Regions from separate parts of the Homo sapiens genome. Here regions 1, 2 and 4 are each linked to region 3. Evidence: fine-mapped expression QTL. A gene starts in region 3. Each other region holds a variant in brackets. All regions are shown on one strand. Distances are between the middles of the regions. Region 1 overlaps RNF144B (ring finger protein 144B). Region 2 overlaps RNF144B (ring finger protein 144B). Region 3 holds the start of RNF144B (ring finger protein 144B). Region 4 has its middle 47 kb from the start of MIR548A1HG.

The links.
Region 1: its variant is fine-mapped to the expression of RNF144B in fibroblasts (GENCORD, PIP 0.95). The same link has a PIP of 0.9 or more in neutrophils.
Region 2: its variant is fine-mapped to the expression of RNF144B in whole blood (INTERVAL, PIP above 0.99). The same link has a PIP of 0.9 or more in monocytes after LPS.
Region 4: its variant is fine-mapped to the expression of RNF144B in whole blood (INTERVAL, PIP 0.98).

What each region holds. Positions count from the first base shown.
Region 1 is chr6:18,410,174-18,415,329 of GRCh38, reverse strand. The region is part of intron 2 of RNF144B (ring finger protein 144B); the gene reads right to left. Among named protein-coding and RNA genes, the nearest start is that of RNF144B, 25 kb to the right of the region's middle. RefSeq lists an enhancer at 1-698. The variant T/A (reference allele first, on the strand shown) is at 2,535.
Region 2 is chr6:18,464,804-18,469,959 of GRCh38, reverse strand. RNF144B (ring finger protein 144B) reads right to left here. Exons shown (of 8, transcript NM_182757.4): 8 at 1,090-5,033. The coding sequence ends at 4,893. Among named protein-coding and RNA genes, the nearest start is that of MIR548A1HG, 55 kb to the left of the region's middle. The variant G/T (reference allele first, on the strand shown) is at 2,951.
Region 3 is chr6:18,384,842-18,389,997 of GRCh38, reverse strand. RNF144B (ring finger protein 144B) reads right to left here and starts at 2,648. Exons shown (of 8, transcript NM_182757.4): 1 at 2,368-2,648.
Region 4 is chr6:18,473,099-18,478,254 of GRCh38, reverse strand. No RefSeq gene overlaps it. Among named protein-coding and RNA genes, the nearest start is that of MIR548A1HG, 47 kb to the left of the region's middle. The variant G/A (reference allele first, on the strand shown) is at 2,902.

The sequences.
Region 1 (5,156 bases), 25 kb before region 3:
AGCCTTCAGAACTATGAGTAGTGGATTTCTGTTGTTGATAAATTACCTAGTCTCGCGTATTTTGTTATATCAACACAAAAGGACTTAGGCACAATCTAAGAGATAGTTGGTATACGGTCAGCCCCCCGTCCTCAGATTTCACATCCATGGATTCAACCAACCACGGACAGAAAATATATTTTTAAAATCACAATAAGAAATACACAAAAAATACAGTAGAAAACCCATTTATATAGATTTACATTGTATTAGATATTATAAGTTACCTAAAGATGATTTAAAGTATATGGGAGGATGTACATAGGTTACATGCAAATACTACACCATTCTATATAAGGGACTTGAGCATTCATGAATTTGGGTATCTTTGGGGTGGGGAGTGGGAAGGGGCTTGGAACCAATATCCTGAAGATACCAAGGGATAACTCTACAGGTATTTGTTGTAAAAATCTTTATCTTGTTTCATAACAAACTGTTGTACAATTTTTTCCATCTTTTTAAAAGTTTTTGTTCTTTTTCACCTTCAAGAATAGAAACAGGATGTTGTACAATATTTTAAAACTAAAAGCAAAAGATAAAATTTATACCATTCATCAAATCTCAGATTTTAATACTGCTTAAAAGCAGAAATCCTATATTTTAAATAAAATCTGTCTCAGTATTTAAACCAGTTTGAATAAATTATAATGAAATAATATCTTAATTAAAACTAATCATATATATACCTACTACGTATCTATACAAATTAAAACATTTTTAAATAAAACTAGTGGTAGCAATATTAATAACTATCTGAATTTTTGAAATTTTAAAAGAATATTAACACTGTATAAGTGACAGAATAAAGCTAACTCATCACCAACATTTTTTCCTACAGGATATAACCTACAAAGCCAGCATGCAAAATAGCTCATATTAATGACCCAAAAGTTGGGAAAGAGTGACGCTTAACAGTTTCCTCAAGAAGATATTATTTCTATACATGGAATGATAGGAACAAGGGACATCAGTTAAGAATAGACCTAACCCTTAAACTTCCTCTTGAGCTACATTACAAAAGAGAATCTCTTAGATTTAAGAGAACTGAACTCTGAAAAAGTAGAAAAGGTTGGACAATGACTAGGTTGGTTATTAGAAATCTCATTTTATTCAAAATTATTTTGAAATAATGATATTCAATGACTCCACAGCAAAATCAGCATCTTTCTAATTATAAGTTACATTGCATCAAGACCACGACTATTCCTCACCTCACAATATTCCCCCGAGGATTTATCCTGCAAAACCTGGAATTTTTTTTAACATTTTCTAAAAAGCAAGTTTTTAGAAGTCAAGGGGCTTCATATTGAGTGGGCTTTTTTCATATTAATTGACATAATTTGAACCAGTCTTCCTTTTCTGAAGGTTATCAATACCATAAACCGTAAGATAAAGTTTTTCAAAGGCTAGACATCATTCCATATTAAAACAATCTTTAATTAACACATTACCTAGGGAAAGCAGATGTTAAGCTATAATATTTTTTTCCATTTGCAGAAAAGGTCTCTGTGCTCTGCAGTAACCCATGCATTAAACACCCTCAACACAGAAGAATCACTTGGAAACAACCGTCAGACTGAGGTCCTCTTAAGAACACCAGTAACTTCCACAGACACAATGCGCCTGGAGGGTGGGAGAACATCAGTCATTGAGGCAGAATGCCTGGCCTTGAACCTTGACTTCAGTTTCAACATCTGAAAATATGCTAAATGCACTGGGAACTTCCAGTTGTGTAAATCAGACCTCTGAATGTCTCGGCCTTGGTTTCCTCAAATAACTTACCCGAAATCACACAGTGGAAAGTTCACAGAACACTCATGTTCATGCTCAATCTCTAATATGAGGCCATGGCCACCACTATATTCTGATTACATACTTTCTGTTCTCTGAAAAACTCCTTGGATTTTTTAAACCAGTAGTTCTTTACATTTGTTTTGTACTGACTAAACTTTTACGTATATAAAATCAGTAGCCAGTTGTCAATTTTGCATTTTATAGGCTATTGTCAAGCTTTAGACATTTCAGGTTAAGATCACAAAAGCCAAATATGGGCCTTCATCCATTTTCATGCTAACAAAAAAAATTTAGGAACCACATACTATGTGCTAGGCCATACATTATATATTTTCACAGAGCTTGTTTTTATTTCTTCCAAACGACACTATGATGTAGGGATTAACATTACAGATCCTGGGCAAGTTATTTAACTCTGAATTGGTTTATCTGTAAACTGGAAGAGTAAATGGGGGAAAAAATAGTACCCTTGCATATTACATATTATATGAAAGGTACTCAAATGCCCTTGCTTTTCCTTCCGTAATTTTTTTAAACAGATGAATAAAATGAGGTTTAAGCAGATTGAAAAAATACCCTACATTCATGTAGTAAATACCTCACACATATTTTCCAGAAGAGTCAAACCAAAAAGACCTCCTTACTGTGGGTGGGAAATGATTCAAAACCATGGAGGCTTTCAGTTAACACAGAGCCATGTA[T/A]TTCCATGGAAATGAGGCACTGTGTCTCACCTGATTCCAAGGGGTACACTGCATATCTGGAATCCACATAGATAAGCCTTATATAACCAATCTTTAATGAACTGAAATATACAGAAAATGGGATTTTAAAAAACTGAATTTTCTAGTTAACTCACCACCCTTTTTCAACTTGCCTAAATTTTTTAAACCTCCTTTACCTACTTAGTAACATTTTGTCACTGGACATGAATTTTTTTGTGTGATAAGGCATCTCCCTCAGTCTGAACACCACCATTTTTTCATTCATTCATGTCTTCTATGTGTAATATACTTTTCTAGATATGGCCCATTTTTTTCTAACTTGATTACTATTAATACCAAGGTATAAAATCAGTTGAAACTATACTGGCACTGAGCATACTGTATGTTTTTTAAAGATAGATTCATGAGATGAGCTTCTCTTACAACAATTTGCTTCCTCCTAAAAAGAGGAAGTATGGATTAAACCATGAGATATGTTCTTTTCACATACCAGATTACAGAAGGTGAAAAGTTGGAAAATACCCGGAGTGTCAAAAGAGAGGCCTCTGTTCCTACTCTGTTGGTGGAGTTGCCAAGCTGGTGCAACAGTTTGGAACAGTAATTTGGTAACACATACTGATTTAAAATGTACATCTATTTTGGTTAGGCAATTCTATTTCTAAAAAGTTATCCTAAGGACAGGTATTTTCACATTTATATAAGTAAAAAAAATGTATTCATAATAGCAAAAACTAGAAACAACCTTAAAATCCATTATTTAGGAGGGGCCCAGTTAAATAAATTTTCATACAACCATATCATAGAACACTATACAATACTTAAAAAGGAAGGTTGGTCTGTATATTTTTGCACAGAAACTTGTCCACAATGTACTATGTTTGTAAAACTCAAGTTAAAAGTATCTGTAGTTAAAGATCCCATTTCTCTATTAAGTGATGTGCGTAAGTACACAGGGAAAGAGTCTAGAAGAAAGTACAGGTGGGCTGGGCGTGGTGGCTCACGCCTGTAATCCCAGCACTTTGGGAGGCTGAGGTGGACAGATCACCTGAGGTCAGGAGCTCGAGACCAGCCTGGCCAACCCCCTCTGTACTAAAAATACAAAAATTAGTTGGGTGCGGTGGCGCATGTTTGTAATCCCAGCTACTTGGGAGGCTGAGGCAGAAGAATCACTTGAACCCAGGAGGCAGAGATTGCAATGAGCCGAGATCACACCACTGTACTCCACCCTGAGCGACAGGGCACAACTCCGTCTCAAAAAAAAAAAAAAAAAAAAAAAATATATATATATATATATATATATATATATATATATGAATCATGCACATGCTTTTTGAGGTTTTTTGGTTTATTTTTAAATTAGCATGTGTTACATTTATAATTAAAAATTATCTTCAATGTAATAAACCAAGAGAGCCCTGAAACATGATTATTTTGTACTTTAGGGTCCTATTTCTTCTATGAGTACTAGCCATGATTTTTAAAAATGTACTTTCACTGGGCACGGTGGCTTATTCCTGTAATCCCAGCACTTTGGGAGGCCGAGGCAGGCAGATCATAAGATCAGGAGATCGAGACCATCCTGGCTAACATGGTGAAATCCCGTCTCTACTAAAAATACAAAAATTCCCTGGGAGTGGTGGCACGTGCCTGTAGTCCCAGCTACTCAGGAGGCTGAGGTAGGAGAACTGCTTGAACCCGGGAGGCGGAGGTTGCAGTGAGCAGAGATCACGCCACTGCACTCCAGCCTGGCAACAGAATGAGACTCCGTCTCAAAAAAAAAGAAAAGAAAAGAAGAAAAAAAAAGAAAAGAAAGCTGACAGTATCCCAAATGGATAGGAAAAAAGAGAAATTGGGGCACAAAAATAATTTAAATACTCCAGGCATCAAAACTGCAGTCTGCCATACACATGTATCCTAAGTTGATAAGGACATTGTTCTCCGAGCTCTGCTTCAGCCTGCCATGGTTCCCTCCTCCTGCTCCAGCCTTGCCCACTTTCAGTCCATTCTCTATCCTGTACCGACGCCATCCTCCCTATCTCATTCCCAAACAAAGCCTTCCAGTGGCTCCATAATGTTTTTTTAACACAGCATACCAGGCCCTCCATCTAGTCTCTGCTTGCCTCTCTGGCCTCCTGCCTGAGCACACCCACACTTCCAACAATGTGTCCCAGGAACATCTTCCGGTTTGGTTCCTCAGCAGGTCACTCTTCCCTGATTCTGTGTTCTCACATGTGGCTGGCCTCTTTTCCCTGGAGCACTGTTCTCACCCACAGCCCCATCAACAATGCCATCAAGCAATCCCTATTATCTTTCAGTCTCAGCCCTTAGGAAACCTCCTACCTCCCTGAGTCTATTTTAGGTGGGTTTCTGTATGCTTTATAACATATTGTACTTCCTTTATCAGAGGGTCTACTGCCCACATAACAGCAGGGCTGGTTGTGTCTGATGACTGCCACTTGCTCCACAATTAACACCATGCCTGGCACACACTAGTACCAAATGGATCAGTAGAGTCTGGACAAAGGTGGGAATAGACTTAGAGAATATTGGAATAAGGGTGCAACTTCAAAAGAAGAAATACATAAACTTTGGTGACTTAGT
Region 2 (5,156 bases), 80 kb before region 3:
ATGATTAAGAAAATTAAGAAACCATAACCCAAAAGTATTTTTAAATGATCTTATTGATTTCCTCAAAACTGAATGATTAGAAAATGAAATTTGAATTGTACATCAGTTGTAAACCTTTGTATGCAGGTACCATTTTAGAAGCATCCAGCCTTCAATAAAAAGGTTTCAACACCAGTACAGGAGAGTGAGCTTTCGGTTTTATGGAAACACAAGCTCTAGTTGTTAAGTAATCTTTGGCACCCAACTTAAGACCTGCCTCGAATACTAATTCAAATGGAAATGACCTTAACACTCTTAAATCCTTTCTTAAAAAATCATAACAAGGAAACACATGCCTCTAGCAGACTTTTGGAAGGTTAGAACTGACCTTAGCGTTTAGTCCAACCTTTATTGTACAGAACAAATGGCTTTGACACTTGGCAGCATTTTTTATTAGAATGATCAAAGATCTGTATTATTGGTTATTGCTCTGGATAATGATGAGTTCCTATGCACTGGCAGTGTGGACTATCACACCTACAAAGAAGAAAGTGTGTAACAAAGGCATTACACTTGCCACCCCCCCACCCCCTTTTTTTTTTTTTTGAGACCGAGTTTCGCTCTTGCTGCCCAGGCTGGAGTGCAATGGCACAATCTTGGCTCACCGCAACCTCCACCTCCAGGTTCAAGCAATTCTCCTGCCTCAGCGTCCCAAGTAGCTGGGACTACAGGCATGTGCCATCATGTCCAGCTAATTTTTTTTTTTTGTATTTTTAGTAGAGACAGGGTTCTAATTTTTTGTGTTTTTAGTAGAGACGGGGTTTCACCATGTTGGCCAGGCTGGTCTCGAACTCCCGACTTCAGGTGATCCGCCCACCTTGGCCTCCCAAAGTGCTGGGATTATAGGCGTGAGCTACCACACCTGACCCCCTGACCCTATTTCTTTTAAGAAGTAAAGTAGCCAAGAGTTATTTCCATAGATGGTATTGCAAATTCTGGTACATTTTGTAAATTCAGAACCTAGGATTTAACAGTAACTTGGTTGGTTCTCAAAGGATAAAACTGAACATGCCTAGAATTGTGCAGCGCAACAAAGGTTAACACACTTGATTTCCTGCTTACATTTATTGTGGCTAGAGAGCCTAAACAGCTATTTTCTTCTCCAAAAATTGGAAAAATATAACACGATAGCAATTTTTTAAATACATAAAACTTCCTGGATCATGAATCAACATGAGACATAATAGCCTGTAGATATCAATTGTGATCGCTTTATAAAATGTCATTCATCTAATGCATTTCTGAAATTGCCCTTAAAGCTACACATACACACATGACTCTATATCACATAAAGGCATCCATTCATGAACAGAAAGAAAAGTCTTTTATTAGTACTGTGTAGGGAAGGCTAAAGAAATATACATTTAATTCAGAATAATTTTTAAGAAAAAACGTGGGGTTCCAAGAAATGGTGATTTACATTCAAATGAACATGTACATTTGCAAACCTGGATAAGTAGATATTTTCATGAAGCACGCTACAAGAAAATTCACACAGAATTATTTGTTTTTCAAAGGCCTCTTTCAAAGTACAGACTCCAAGTCCAAAGCAAATACCCATGGCATGAACAAATAGGATGCCTAAGATTCTAACATTTGCTTCGGCATGGCTTTCCTCCTCACTTCCCTACCTCACAACAAGAAAAAATTTCCTAGATGGGACAATGGCAAGATATTGTGCTAATACGTTTCATAGGATTTCTAGATGCTGGGCTATAACATCCAGGTTACAATTTGGTGACGGATTTTTTTATTTCTATTGCAAATGGACTACACTCCAAACACAAAAAGATTCTTGCCATAGCATCCAAACATCCCTATGTAGACCCACACTTCCTCTCAATACAGAAAGAGAATCACTCAGAAAGGACAAAGCTGGCAGACCAAGAAAGGAGGCAAGGGTAAACTCTGTCACTGGCCAATTATCTAAAACAAAAATAGCAGCCTCTGTTATCAAAGTTGTCAGTTAAAACTGTCAGCTGTCAGGCACAGTGACACACACCTGTAATCCCAACACTTTGGGAGCCCAAGGTGGGTGGATCGCTTGAGCCCAGGAGTTTGAGACAAGACTGGGCAACACAGAGAAACCCCATCTCTACAAAAAATACAAAACTTAGCCAGGTGTGGTGGTGTGTGCCTGTAGTCCCAGCTGCTCAGGAGGATAAGGTGAGAGGAACACTTGAGCCCAGGAGGTAGGGGTTGAAGTGAACCATGATCATGCCACTGCACTCCGGCCTGGGTGACAAAGGGAGACTCTGTCCAAAAAATAAAAATAAAAATAAGTCGCCAGCTCTCTCCTTTATAAACAGTCTTTAGACTGGTTTGTATCATGCCCCTTGATGTACCAGAGATATGTTTAACCAACCTAGTTTTGTTGATTCTGACAATCTCACACACATTTAAGAATTTACCATTTTTCAGGCACTTTTCAATGTTAAAAAAAATTAAATCCAATTATTGAAAATCAGTTTGACAAACAACCCCCACTCCATAGCCCTGGCAAAAAAAAAAAAAAAAAAACAAAAGCAGCTAATTCAGTGATACAAACTCTGTAAGGTGGCAAATTCCCTCAACTCGCCAAGGAAATAGCACATATTTATTTTCTCCCATCTTTACTCCAAATTTGGGACCTCTTCCTCTGATAACACAGTCTTTTAGGTTACTTGAAATCAGCCCCCATTTAAAGACTCTTTGCAGCACCAAGCTTAAAGAGTTTACTGACAGAGGACTTTGCCACTATTAACATTCTTGTTACAAAAATTCAGTTTCAGTTGAGTTCTCGTAATCCCCTGAGCAGTTATAAATGCCTTTTACCTATAATGAGGCAGTGGGCTACGTGTAAAACAAAGCAAATTAACTATTCAAATATATGTAAATCTATAATTATACTAACATGAACTACACTGATAGT[G/T]TTTTTTTCTGAAGTGTTTAGAGTTTCAAAAGAAAAAGACACAATATTGAGAAATTTCTAATAAATGATTAAAAATGATTTTGGTTGGTTGCCATTCCCAAGTTTTCCCAGAGTTCTCATCTATGTTCTACACAACATGTAAATTAAAATGTACATAACCAACAGATGTACTATACACACATCAGATATCAATATATACTTGTGAATTAAAGTTCCTGAAATATACACATCCCCACTTAGGATATATCCTATTACATAGGCAAAGCATCATCCTTTAACAATAGGTCCGAGATAGCAGCAATTTGATATTCTATTACCCAGTTACCTCAGAAAATATCATAGATCCTGAATAGTTCCTGATATGGTATCCCTGGCTTCAAGAACTCTCCAGTAACATTTAGCATAGGTCTCATGAAGCACCAGGCTACATTGCCAATAGCAATTATATAATCCTGTCATTGGAGAAAAGGTTTTATCCTTTCAAAACCTCGTTATTCAAATCTGACTAATGGTATAATGGAAAAAATAAGTCACAATGAGGTGATACATAAATTTAAACTAAATTATATAAAGCATTTCTATTTTATTTCTTACATGTTTTTGTTGCGGTTTTATCAGTGCCTTGAAACAGAAAGTATTCAGACTGTCCTAACAGATGCTGAAAGAGCAATAATGATGCTGAGAAAAGAGCTATTCTGTGTTCGAAAACATGTAAATGACTCGGTTATCAATTAGCGTTTTTACAGAGATGGCAGGATATTGTACTAAGCACTGTTTTAAAAGAGTTATGAGTCTATACCCTTGGGTAAGTTATGAACTTACAACCAAAATTCACATATATAATATGCAAAAAATCTTTAGGCAGATTTACAATAAACCATTTCAGTCACAAAAGGATAGAATGGCTCTTAAGTAAACATTTATTTTGTGTGTACTATTGGGTATATCCATGCATGCTCAATGGATAGAAATTACAGGTAGGCTGCAAGTCACATGGATTCTAGATGTACATAATACGCACTTTAATATTTACCCTCCATGTGTACTCTTAGGCCTGATTCCAAATCTATTGGCTGTGTGAACACAGATCCTGAGAAAGGTCCCAGATATCTATGACGAAAGTTTTGAAACTCTACCACTCTACCCGTATTTTATATGAAACAATTCTGTAGACCACAGCCACTGGCTGTAAGAGACAAGTTGGCCAACTTAGAAAACTTACATTTGCCAAGGGAGAGACACTAAATTAGACCACATTGTTTAACAGGCTGCAACTCTTTTACTGGGAAGGGGCAACTCCCTCTGCACAGCAGTTTCACCTGCTTGAAGCTGAGATCACACAAGGAGAAGCCTATTGTGTTTCTGCCAAATCACAGCGGGAACATGGGGACAGCACACCCAGTAGCCAGCAGAGGCACAACCACCATATCAACTGCTGAGATCAGCAGCCTGCTTTATAGCTCCTATGAGGATTTCTCCTTACGCAGTCTTATCCTTCTCCTCATCAGGTTTCCCCTGTGTTTCTCATGGCAGTCAAATCAACACAGAACAGACTCCAGCTTCTTGGTTATCTTGTATGTTGCCAACAATGACAACACATTTGTTATATCAAATGTTCCCGCAAGCTCCTTGAATTTGGCTGGAAGTTGAACAGTCCAGTGAGATCCTTTGGATGATAAAATGATATGTTCATTCATCTCAAGGAACCCCAAAGCTCCATAGAAACAGCTGGACCGTTGAGCCCAGTTCTTGTTACACAGGAACACTCACACCCAGGACTTGGCCTTTCCTGATGCTGAAGGCTGGCAGGCAAGTTCAAAGTCTGGACACGGAGGCACTTTCAAAGTTGGCAAGGAGAAGGAGGCAAGGTCACTAAATGGGGCTTTATCACTGTGCCATCTCATGTAACTCACATATCTGGGGCGTATGAACACAGAGATCTTTAGGTTGTGGATGGGTCGTGCTTTTTCTTCTTGCCCCGACAGGACTTGCAGACACAACAGATTATACATGGGGAGGCCAGGAGTAACAAGGGTGAAGTAACCAAGGCAATGATGCCCAAGCCTACGAGAATCCCCACCACCTGGAAATTTCAAAGAAAAGCATATTTCAGCAATTAAGTCTTTCAATATGTATACTTATTCCAACTATACTGTTATCTGCTGTGGGCCAAATGTTTGTGTCCCCCTGAAGCTCATATGTTGAA
Region 3 (5,156 bases):
TAGAGTGGATAACTTTTCTGATTGTACTTGGAGGAGAGAAAATATTAAAGGCCTGGTTCTCATCTGTATTCACTTCCAGAAATTCACAAGCTGAAAATATTGACCATTTGTTTCAGGTAAGGAGCTTCTATAAATTAAGGTAGGCACCCCTGAAAGAAATGTTTCAGTACTTAGGAGCAATGGCTACAGATACCTATTCCCCAAAGTCCAAGTGAAAAGCATGACTTGTCTGGCAGCTTGGCCCTTTTCCCACATCCAAAATAATCAGTTGTACAAAGTAGGCTTAGTCCCAAAACTGCTCAGACTTTGTTCCTTCAGTAACATCTGGGTTCAGCATGATTCCTGACCTCTATCTCAAACTGGAGATTTCAAACACTAAAAACTTCACTCTCCAAGAAAGTAATGTCATAAAGTCAAGGCCAGGGGAAACAAAGAAGCCAGGATTAGCAGAAACACTTCGGAGAAAGGATTCTGACATACATATAAATGTTTCTAAACGTCTAAAATATTGAAATGACTTTTCAAGAAGGAAATTTTAAGTGCACCTCCTCAGATGAAAAATATTCATACTACTGAGGAGAAAGACGTTTTTCAGGAAGTTAAATGGTCATACCAGGTAGATAAAATAAGCTTTTTCTTTCCAGAGAGAGCATACTCTTCTCTCTGCTGTAGAGTTTGGCTCCAAAAACCTGGTTCATAATCTGAGACCCAAAAACTGATTATTTTAAAAAGACATGTCTTAAGCTGACCTAGTTTGGAAGCCTGAATGCCTTTAAATTGCCAATGAACTGAAACCATTCATGAGAATGGGCCTTTTGAATGCTGAGAATGTTCTTTGGGACTCAGCACAAAGATATTTGGCATAGATGACTGTAAATATTTGTAAAACTCTGGGTAAATGGGCAGGATTTGACCACACTCAAGCCCGACTTCCAGCACAGTAGTGTAGGAGAAAGTTATCTAGGGTGATTGTTTGGGGTTTTGGGGGGTTTTTTTGGTTGAGTTTTGTTTGTTTTAAATAAAAAGCCAAGCAACCCAATTCTACTACTCAACATCTTTTTCACGTTCACTATATATGTTTACCTTTTTTTAATCAAGATAATTAATTAGTCAGAGACTACTTTTGAAACTGAGGTTTTTCCCTTTCCCACTTTTCTAAGTTTATGCCCACGACAAAAATAAAAAAAAAAATGCCAGTCAAAGGTGTGCAAGGGCAGAGCAGGAGTTGTGTGAAACCATGACCTTGGATTTCATAATACAATTATCTACAAGTGGCTTTGTGGATCTGCTATAGGTTTTTCTCCCCCTCAGGATAGTTTTAGAAGTATTTAAGGCACTGCTGTCCATGAAAAGGACCCAGGTTGTGAAGGAAAGATAAACTAAGGAGAAGGAGGGACTCACAGAGGGATTTGATGTGAAAGGGACCAAGAGGCTCATTTCAGTGAAAGCTGCGGCAGACAGATACTCTAATTAGCCAGCAACTCAGTTAGGACTGGCTAGGTTCCTTTTGCCTCTTACCCACACCCTAAAAACTGAGTCATCCCAAAGTTCATTTATTTTGCTTCTGGGCACAGACACCCCCTAATCTGCTTCCTCAGAAATGTTAGATACATTGCCATTTAATTTATACCTCTCAATGTTCAAATAAACGTCCAGAAATGCCAAATCGGAAGAGCAGAGATAGTCCTGTTAAGAACCTCAGAGCTAATGTTTTGATAAGATACATGTGGCAGAAAGCAATATGAAACTGACAGTCTGTTATGAGAACATGAAAAAAGAACATTTCCCAGAGAAGGGAATTAATTTCTGGGAAATCTTTATGTGAATAGTGTATATGCATGAGGAGTAGACTTACAGCAGGATCCTTGAAACTCATGAGAAAAACAAAAGGTGTTTTAGAAAGAATAAGCAAAAGATACCTACCTTTTCCCTGCACAAACGACAATCAGTTCGATTTTAACTTAAATTTGAGAATGGCTCTCGTAGTATCAGAGTTTCACTGTTTCATTAGCAATTACCTGATAAAATAAGCACTATAATGCATAATCCGAGATTATGCCAACTTTTGGTCTCCCCTTAAGACCTAGGGAGAGGTCTGGTCTAATCTCGGATTCTACAATACATTCTATTATAGAAACTGTTTTATTAGAAATGAAACTACTTTCCTTTAACAAAGGCATTTTTCTTCTAAGTTAACAGGTGTTTAAGGCATTCAGAATGAATTCAGTTCTGTATGGTTTGAGCACTAGAGACAGAAAATCGAAAAATTGTGGTGTCACAGTGAGTTTCCTGTCCTTTTTCCTTAGTCCAGCAACACCATTCCGGTCTTGCAACGCCTGTAGCCTTTAAAAAGCTCGCTAAACCTACCTGGCAGCAGACCTGCGTTCCTCCGTCGCCGGGCTTCTCAGTAGCCTCCCTCGCGCTCACCGCCAGTCCGGGCTGCTGGCACACCGGACAGGAGCTCTTCCATTCTCTCCGTCTTTCCTCCGTGCTCTGCGGCTGACAGCTTTACACTTTGCAAGACTGCAACAGGACTTGCGCTCCCAGACCTACGGGTCGGGAGGAGGCGGAGTCCCCGACCGCCTCCTAGCCTTGACTGGCAGCTGCGATGCCCGGGACTGTTGCAGCGGGAGCGTGGGGCACAGCTCGCCAGCAGCGGTAGCAGCGCGTTTATTTATACAGGAAGCTCAGGCGCCGCACTTCCTACTTCCCATGTGGGTCGTACTTCAGCTGCAGGTGTTGGCCTTAACCCTATCCGAACCCGGGCGCGCTGCACCGACTCTACTGCTTGTCAGGACCTGTCTCTTGTTCTCCTGGGACCGCTGTTGCAGGAATTCAGAGCAGGGGGTGCAGGCAGCTGCCCCTAGCGCACTTCTTCTGCCCAGACAGGGACAGCTCACCTCTTGGCCTTAAGCGCCTGCTACCTCTCTGTCTGTACATATCCTCACAGGCCACCTTTCTTTATTTTCTCCCTCCTTCCCAGCTCTTTAAATCTCTTTCTTCTACTTCTAACAGCCCAGACCTGCCTTCCCACGTGGCAGACAACTGTTTTATAGAAACACTTCCCATGCACATCTCATCAAAAAACAGCTTGTACCTCACTTGTCCTTTTGCATCTAATGATGAAATTAGAATACCTGTGAATCAAATCGGGAATAATCTTAGTTTACCTCATAAAATACAGACACTTCTTGATGAAACAATGATTTCACTTGAAGTGCTTTGTAACTTAACTGGTTGTACCCTCAATTAAACAAAAATGTAACAAAATAATCCAGAAGCTGTGAGGTATTATGAAGTGCTTCCTTGCTCCAAACCCTTGGACACTTCATTTGTGTGACATTCATAATGAATCGCATACCTACTCATTCCCCATATCCCCCATAGATCACAATCACCTAAGTCTGCTGAACATTGCCATTTAGGAATGTCGCTCTGACACAAGAATCTGTGTTCACTCTGCAATCCCTCTCTACTTTTGCAACCACTGTCAGGAATGTGCTTCCTAAAAGGAAGGGACTCACAGGCCCTTTGTGGAAAGGATCTGTGCACGCCAACAGGCACCATTCCAAACGACACAAGCAAACATTGCTTCTCAGCCCTCCAAGTTGAAGAAAACCTCTAGGTCAAAGCAAAGTGCTGAATAACACAGTGTATCTACATGTGCCATGCTAGGGCAGGTAGGAGGACCAGCTCACCAGTCAGGGAGGAAGAGAAAAAGGACAGGGGCAATAAGATGATAAAAGAACCCACGGTAGGATATTTGAGCTTGAAAAGTCTTCCTAGCTATTTTAGCAAATAACCTGATTTTAAAAATAAGGAAACTGGGCTGGGTGCGGTGGCTCACATCTGTAATCCCAACACTTTGAGAGGCCAAGGCGGGCAGATCATCTGGGGTCAGGAGTTCAAGACCAGCCTGGCCAACATGGTGAAACCCCGTCTCTACTAAAAATACAAAAAATTAGCTGGGCGTGGTGGTGGGTGCCTATAATCTCAGCTACTCGAGAGGCTGAGGCAGGTGAATCGCTTGAACCTGGGAGGCAGAGGCTGCAGTGAGCCGAGATTGCGCCATTGCACTCCAGCCTGGGTAACAAGAGCGAAACTCTGTCTCAAAAAAAAAAAAAAAATAAGGAAACTGATGTCCAGGAAGATTTAAGAGATTGGCCCAAACCAGACACAGGCCAAGCTAGAATGAGACCTAAATCTGAGTTACATGAGGAAGGTGAATGTAAATGAAAACCATCCCAAAGGAAGTCCAACCTTCAGATTTAGCAATGGCTTAGGTTCTGAGATAATCTATTTCAAGGAATTTTCTTGGTATAGTGACCATTTTGGTGGACAGGAACTAGGAAAGATAAAAAGCAACCTCTAAGAGGTTAGTTTATTCATTGGTGTTGATGCAAATCTCCTGAGCCTTAAACCAAAGTTCAACACAGAGTCCACTTTTCAAATTACCATTCATAAATTATAATCTCTTGTTAACAGGATAAGGGAAGAAGCTGCTGCCAATATGAATGAGAACATAAGCACGAATAGTGCTGCCTATTATCCCAAATATTTTGCACAACTGAGTAACATCACCACTGATTATTTTCAACCATGCAACTATGCAAATTTTTTTTAAATTGCAGTCAAAATTTAATAAGACTAAATAAACACGTTGAATGCTATAATATTATGTGAACAAACTCTCTCAGATCTTCCTAAGGAGTCTACAGTGTGAATGGATATTCATTCTCTGGAGCATTTATTGATTTCCTCCCAGACAATCTGCTAGGTTGTATTAAGATAATGATATTAGACATGGTCTCCCTGTCCTCAAAGACCTCTCAATCCAGGGAAGGAGTAAGACAAGCAAATCAATTATCAGGGTACTGATAGTTGTACCCAATGTGTGAGTGATACATAATGTGTGATATGATAGACTTAAGCATGATGTGCTATTGGGAGCACAGAGAAGAAGAATTTAAAGGAAAGGAGTTGATGAAAAGAATCAAGTCTTCTCTGAGAAGGTGATTATATTAATCTGTTCTCACATTGCTATAAAGAAATAACTGAAACTGGGTAATTTATAAAGAAAAGAAGTTCAATTGGCTCATGGTTCTGCAGCTGCACAGGAAGCATGGCTGGGGAGCCCTCAGGGAGGTTACAATCAT
Region 4 (5,156 bases), 88 kb before region 3:
GCTTTTCTTACACTTTTTGTTGCATTGAATGCCGTGCTTGTCTCTCATATGACAGGCAGCTTCTCCTTTCTTTCCCCTCCTAAAGTAATGGATATTGATTAACAGAAGGCCAATTTGACCAGAATACAGTGTTCCTCCTCTCTCTTCCCAGGTCTCTGGGTTCAATCACATTAAGCAGAGCTCTAACAGCTACTCTATCAGACTTACAGAGAGCAAAAAGTTTCCATGGGCATAGGGCAAAAGAATATTCTAATAAGGACAAGCTAATCATCAATTATAGCAGAATAATTAAGTTGTTTTGTGACAAGCTTTAGTTCTTCACATACAAAATGGAAGTATATAACATCAGATTGCATCAGTTTATCTTATGAGCAGACAGAGTGGCAGCAGAGGGGAAGACACACCTCATGCACTTTCAAAGAGAATTTCTTTCCAAGTAAATGAAAACAACATGGTCAATTAACTTCCTCAAAGCACTTTCAGAACTCAACTCCATTTCCCGTCTTTGTCAAGCTAGTTATGTACTTCAGTGCTCCTGGCTTTCCCCCAAAAAGGAGAAGGCATTTGGGTTGAAAGCATTTCTTAAATGAATTAATTCATCACTCTAAGAAACTCTCCTGTACCCCCTACTTTCATAAGAATTAACTAAAGTTATAAAACAAAGTAGAAATGCATCTCCCACTCAGTTTTTATGCATCCAATCTGGCTGCTCCTTCAGCATACCCTATGAGTAATTGTATTTATTCCCTGCTTTGTTCCAAAAATGATTTAAGGGTGAGTCCTATGAATAAGCCTCACATTAATGAAACCCTTTCTAAGCTGGCTCTGAGTAAAGACTGATAGCAATTTTATGGAGGTTTTAATATTCAATACAGTAACATGTTCGAGTACAAAACAACATTACAATGGAAAACTTTTTTAAAGCACTAGTTTGGTGGATGCTATAGTTACCAAAGTGTTATTGGGTTTGGTTTTGTTTTATGTAAGATCTTTCTCATTTGCTTTCCCCTGACATTCCCTGCAGACACCAACCTGGATCAGGCTCTCATTAAATGATACCTGGACTATTGTAGTACTGTCCTCAAACTGGCCACGCCACTTCCAGCTTCTCTCCTTGCAATTTAACCAACAGACTGTTGTCAGATTAACCTGCTAAAATGTAGCTTTGCACATACCTTTTTTTTTTTTTTTTTTTTGAGACAGGGTCTCACTCTGTTGCCCAGGCTGGAGTGCAGTGGCACCATCACGGCTCACTGCAGCCTTGACCTCCCAAGGCTCAGGTGGTCATCCCACCTTAACCTTCCAGGTAGCTGGGACCACAGGTGCATGCCACCACACCTGGCTAATTTTTGTAACTTTTGGTAGAGACAAGGTTTTGCCATGTGGCCCAGGCTGGTCTCGAACTCCTGGGCTCAAGTGATCCTCCCATGTCAGCCCCCCAAAGTGCTGGGTTTATGGGCATGAGTCACTGCACCTCACCCCACTCTTCAAGCACAGAACCCTGAAATGGCTCCTCACCCCAAAAAGAACCTGTCAACACGGGAGCCTGGCACTCAAGGTTCTCTGTTTCTGCACCCCACAGGTGCTTTATTTCTGTTTCATTCAGTTATTTCTCACTCCCCATGTCACACTGTTGTCATCATGCCTCCTCTCTGTAATGCCCTTGCTGATCACAATCCTGTCTCTCAACACCCTGATCAGCATCATCTCCATGAAATGTGAATTGAAAAGTTCCAACAATCTCACTCCTTCTCCACAGGTTCATGGCACCTGTCTACACCAATCACCTGGCATGTACCAGGCATGACCCAATGCAGTCATTCCTTTTTCTGTAGACCAACGTATTCTTTCTCCTAAACCTAACTAAGCCACTTGAAACAACTAATTGAGACACATTTGTTTGTACAAAGAAGGCATTCAATATATGTTTGGTGATTAAAATAACCTAGTAGACTTGCTCATGCTTCTCAAACAGGTGTATGTAACACCCCAGGGTATTGTGGGGTACTGGAGGATACAAGACAAAGATAAAGCATCTTTAAGAAGTTAATTTTGGCCAGGGACAGTGGTTCACACCTGTAATCCCAGCACTTTGGGGGGCCGAGGCGGGTGGATTACCTAAGGTCAGGAGCTCGAGACCAGCCTGACCAATATGGTGAAATCCTATCTCCACTAAAAAATACAAAAATTAGCCAGGTGTGGTGGTGTGCGCCTGTAGTCCCAGCTACTCGGGTGGCTAAGACAGGAGAATCACTTGAACTCAGGAGGTGGAGGTTGCAGTGAGCCGAGATCGTGCCACTGCACTCCAGCCTGGGTGACAGAGCAAGACTCTGTCTTCAAAAAAAAAAAAAAAGAAAAAAGAAGAAGTTAATCTTACTTCAATAATTTAAAATGTAATCTTTAAAATGAAATCAGGCCAGGTCTGGTGGCTCACACCTGTAATTCCAGGATTTTGGGAGGCTGAGGCAGGAGGATTGCCTGAGCTCGGGAGTTTAAGACCAATCTGGGCAACATGGTGAAACTCTGTCTTTACAAAAAAATTAAAAAATTAGCGGGGTGTGGTGGCATGCACCGTAGTCCCAGCTACTCAAGAGGCTGAGGTGGGAGGATCACTTGAACCCAGGAGGTCAAGGCTGCAGTGAGCCGAGATCATCACGCCACTGCACTCCAGACTGGCCGACAGAGCAAGACCTTGTCTCAAAAATAAAAATAAATAAAATCAGGCCAGTTGTGGTGGTTCACACCTGTAATCCCAGCACTTTGGGAGGCCGAGGTGGGAAGCTGCTTGAGCCCAGGAGTTTGAGGCTACAGTGAGTCCTGATCGTGCCCCTGTACTCCAGCCTGGGCAACAAAGCAAGACCCTGTCTCTACAAACAAAATTACTTAATTAAAATCAAAATA[G/A]TATGGAGGTTATAATTTTTAATGAATGTTTAAATGAACAATAAAATTAAAAAATAAAACCAGAGACCTCAAATAAGTGTCTAGCCCTCAGCAGTTAGCTTGGGACAATGCTTCCAGGTCATCTTCTGTTCCCTCCAGTAGTAAATTAACATTCTTACACCAGTTGAGGATATTTATTGTTTGAGAAATACCCTGCAGATTATGAATGGGGAGTGGGAGAAGAATACAACCACTTATTTTTATCATTTTCATTTTAAGGTGCAATCAACACACATTTTTGTTTTCCTTAAGGTAGGTAAAAGAAATTAAACCTGAAGATTTTTTTCAAGTTTTTTTTTTTTTTTTTTTTTTTTTTTTCTGAGACGAAGTCCCGCTCTGACACCCAGGCTGGAGTGCGGTGGTGCGATCTCGGCTCACTGCAAGCTCCGCCTCCCGGGTTCATGCCATTCTCCCACCTCAGCCTCCCAGGTAGCTGGGACTACAGGCGCCCACCACCACGCTCTGCTAACTTTTTTGTATTTTTAGTAGCGATGGGGTTTCACCGTGTTAGCTAGGATGGTCTCGATCTCCTGACCTAGTGATCCGCCCACCTCGGCCTCCCAAAGTGCTGGGATTACAGGCGTGAGCCACCATGCCCCACCACAAGTTCTTATTTTACTTCCTTGGCTATGACACACTTGTGATATCAGATGTAAATATGAGGACTGAGTTTTAGTATGACCACTCTTAAAACTTTTAAAGCATTCTTTGAATATTTAATTAACTTGTTTTTTTAATTAACTTATTTCTTTATTTACCGTTTTTCAAAGTTCACAAGTAGTTTTGTGTTCTACTTTTGAAAATCGAATTCATTAAAGACTGAATAAAAATTTTGTTAACAAAGTCGATGTGCCTATTTATCTTCTCATTCACACAAACATACATGCATATATACTATCCTATATGCTATCAATATATATACCTTAAATTTAACTCAATTTGCAGAAAATACAATGTATACTGAAAAAAATTAATAACAAGCCCCTTAGACTAACACACTCATAATAATCCATGGTGTGCTTCAAATAAGGAGAGTGAGGTCCTGATATTTTTTGTATAGGTACTAGAAGAAACATGTCCCTGGAAATTCCCCAAGCAACTTTGATTATAGGTCTTTTTAGCCACCAAGAGCTGTAGATAAACCATGAGGTTCAACCACTACTCTTTGAATTTGCTCATTTTAAGTAAATTGGCAATATATTTCATATGCTTCTGGCATTATCCATAACAGCATCTGGAAGCTGCTTCTGAGGATTACTTTGTCTAAGAAGGAGAATTTCCCTTGAGCTAACTAGTTTCATGCATATAGAGCTCACAGAGGGGGCTGGAGGTTTTTTCCATCTTAGTCAAAATGTTAGGTTTGTACTGAACCTAGAAAACAGTTACTTCCTAATTTTCTAGATGAGGCAACCGAAGCCAAGAGAAATTGTAACTTGTCCACAAGAGACTAGGAGAGCTATCAAACTTCCCTCCAGTCTTTCATTTCTAGTCAAAAGCATGGCTATGCTAGTTTAAAACATCTACAGCATCTGGCCGGGTCTGTATTGCTGCACTGGGGGTGGGAGAGGGGAAGAGGCAATGACCTTGACTTTTGTTGCACGTCCCTCAACAACAGGCAGTGACTGGTTAACTCAGATCCATCTGCTTTACTGGTCTGACTTGAATGGAAACACCATCCTGTACTTTAAGCCAGCTCTTAAAAGAGTTGTCCTTCCTGAATCCAAAACAAGATTCAATCCAATCCTGAATCTTCTGAAGGTTTGTTTAGAAAGCTCAGATCAGGTTTTCTTCTGAGTCCATTTAAGAAAATCTGTCCCACATATAGACCAAATGGACCTCCCAAGGACACTAGCCAGAAGCAGAATTGCTGATCTCCTTGGCTATACTAGACCCAATTCCAACGGTAAGTCAACAGTTCCCAGGTAGAAGTTAGATTTTGCTAACTCTTCCCCAAGTTTGTGATGTCTTCAAGCAGATTCTATTACCTGTGAAAACTCTTTGCCTTCATGGGGCTGGGAAACAGAACAGATTTTAAAAAGCTAAATTTCCTTTTGAAAATGACAAATATACATACTCTCGTAGCCATTAAAATGTAAAATGGAAGCCAGAGATGTGTCAGAAGAGGAAGCCAAAGAGGTCTGAAGTATGAGAAAGACTCAATGAGCTGTTGCAAGCTTGAAGATGGAGGGGGCCACGTGGAAGGTGTGAGAAGGAAC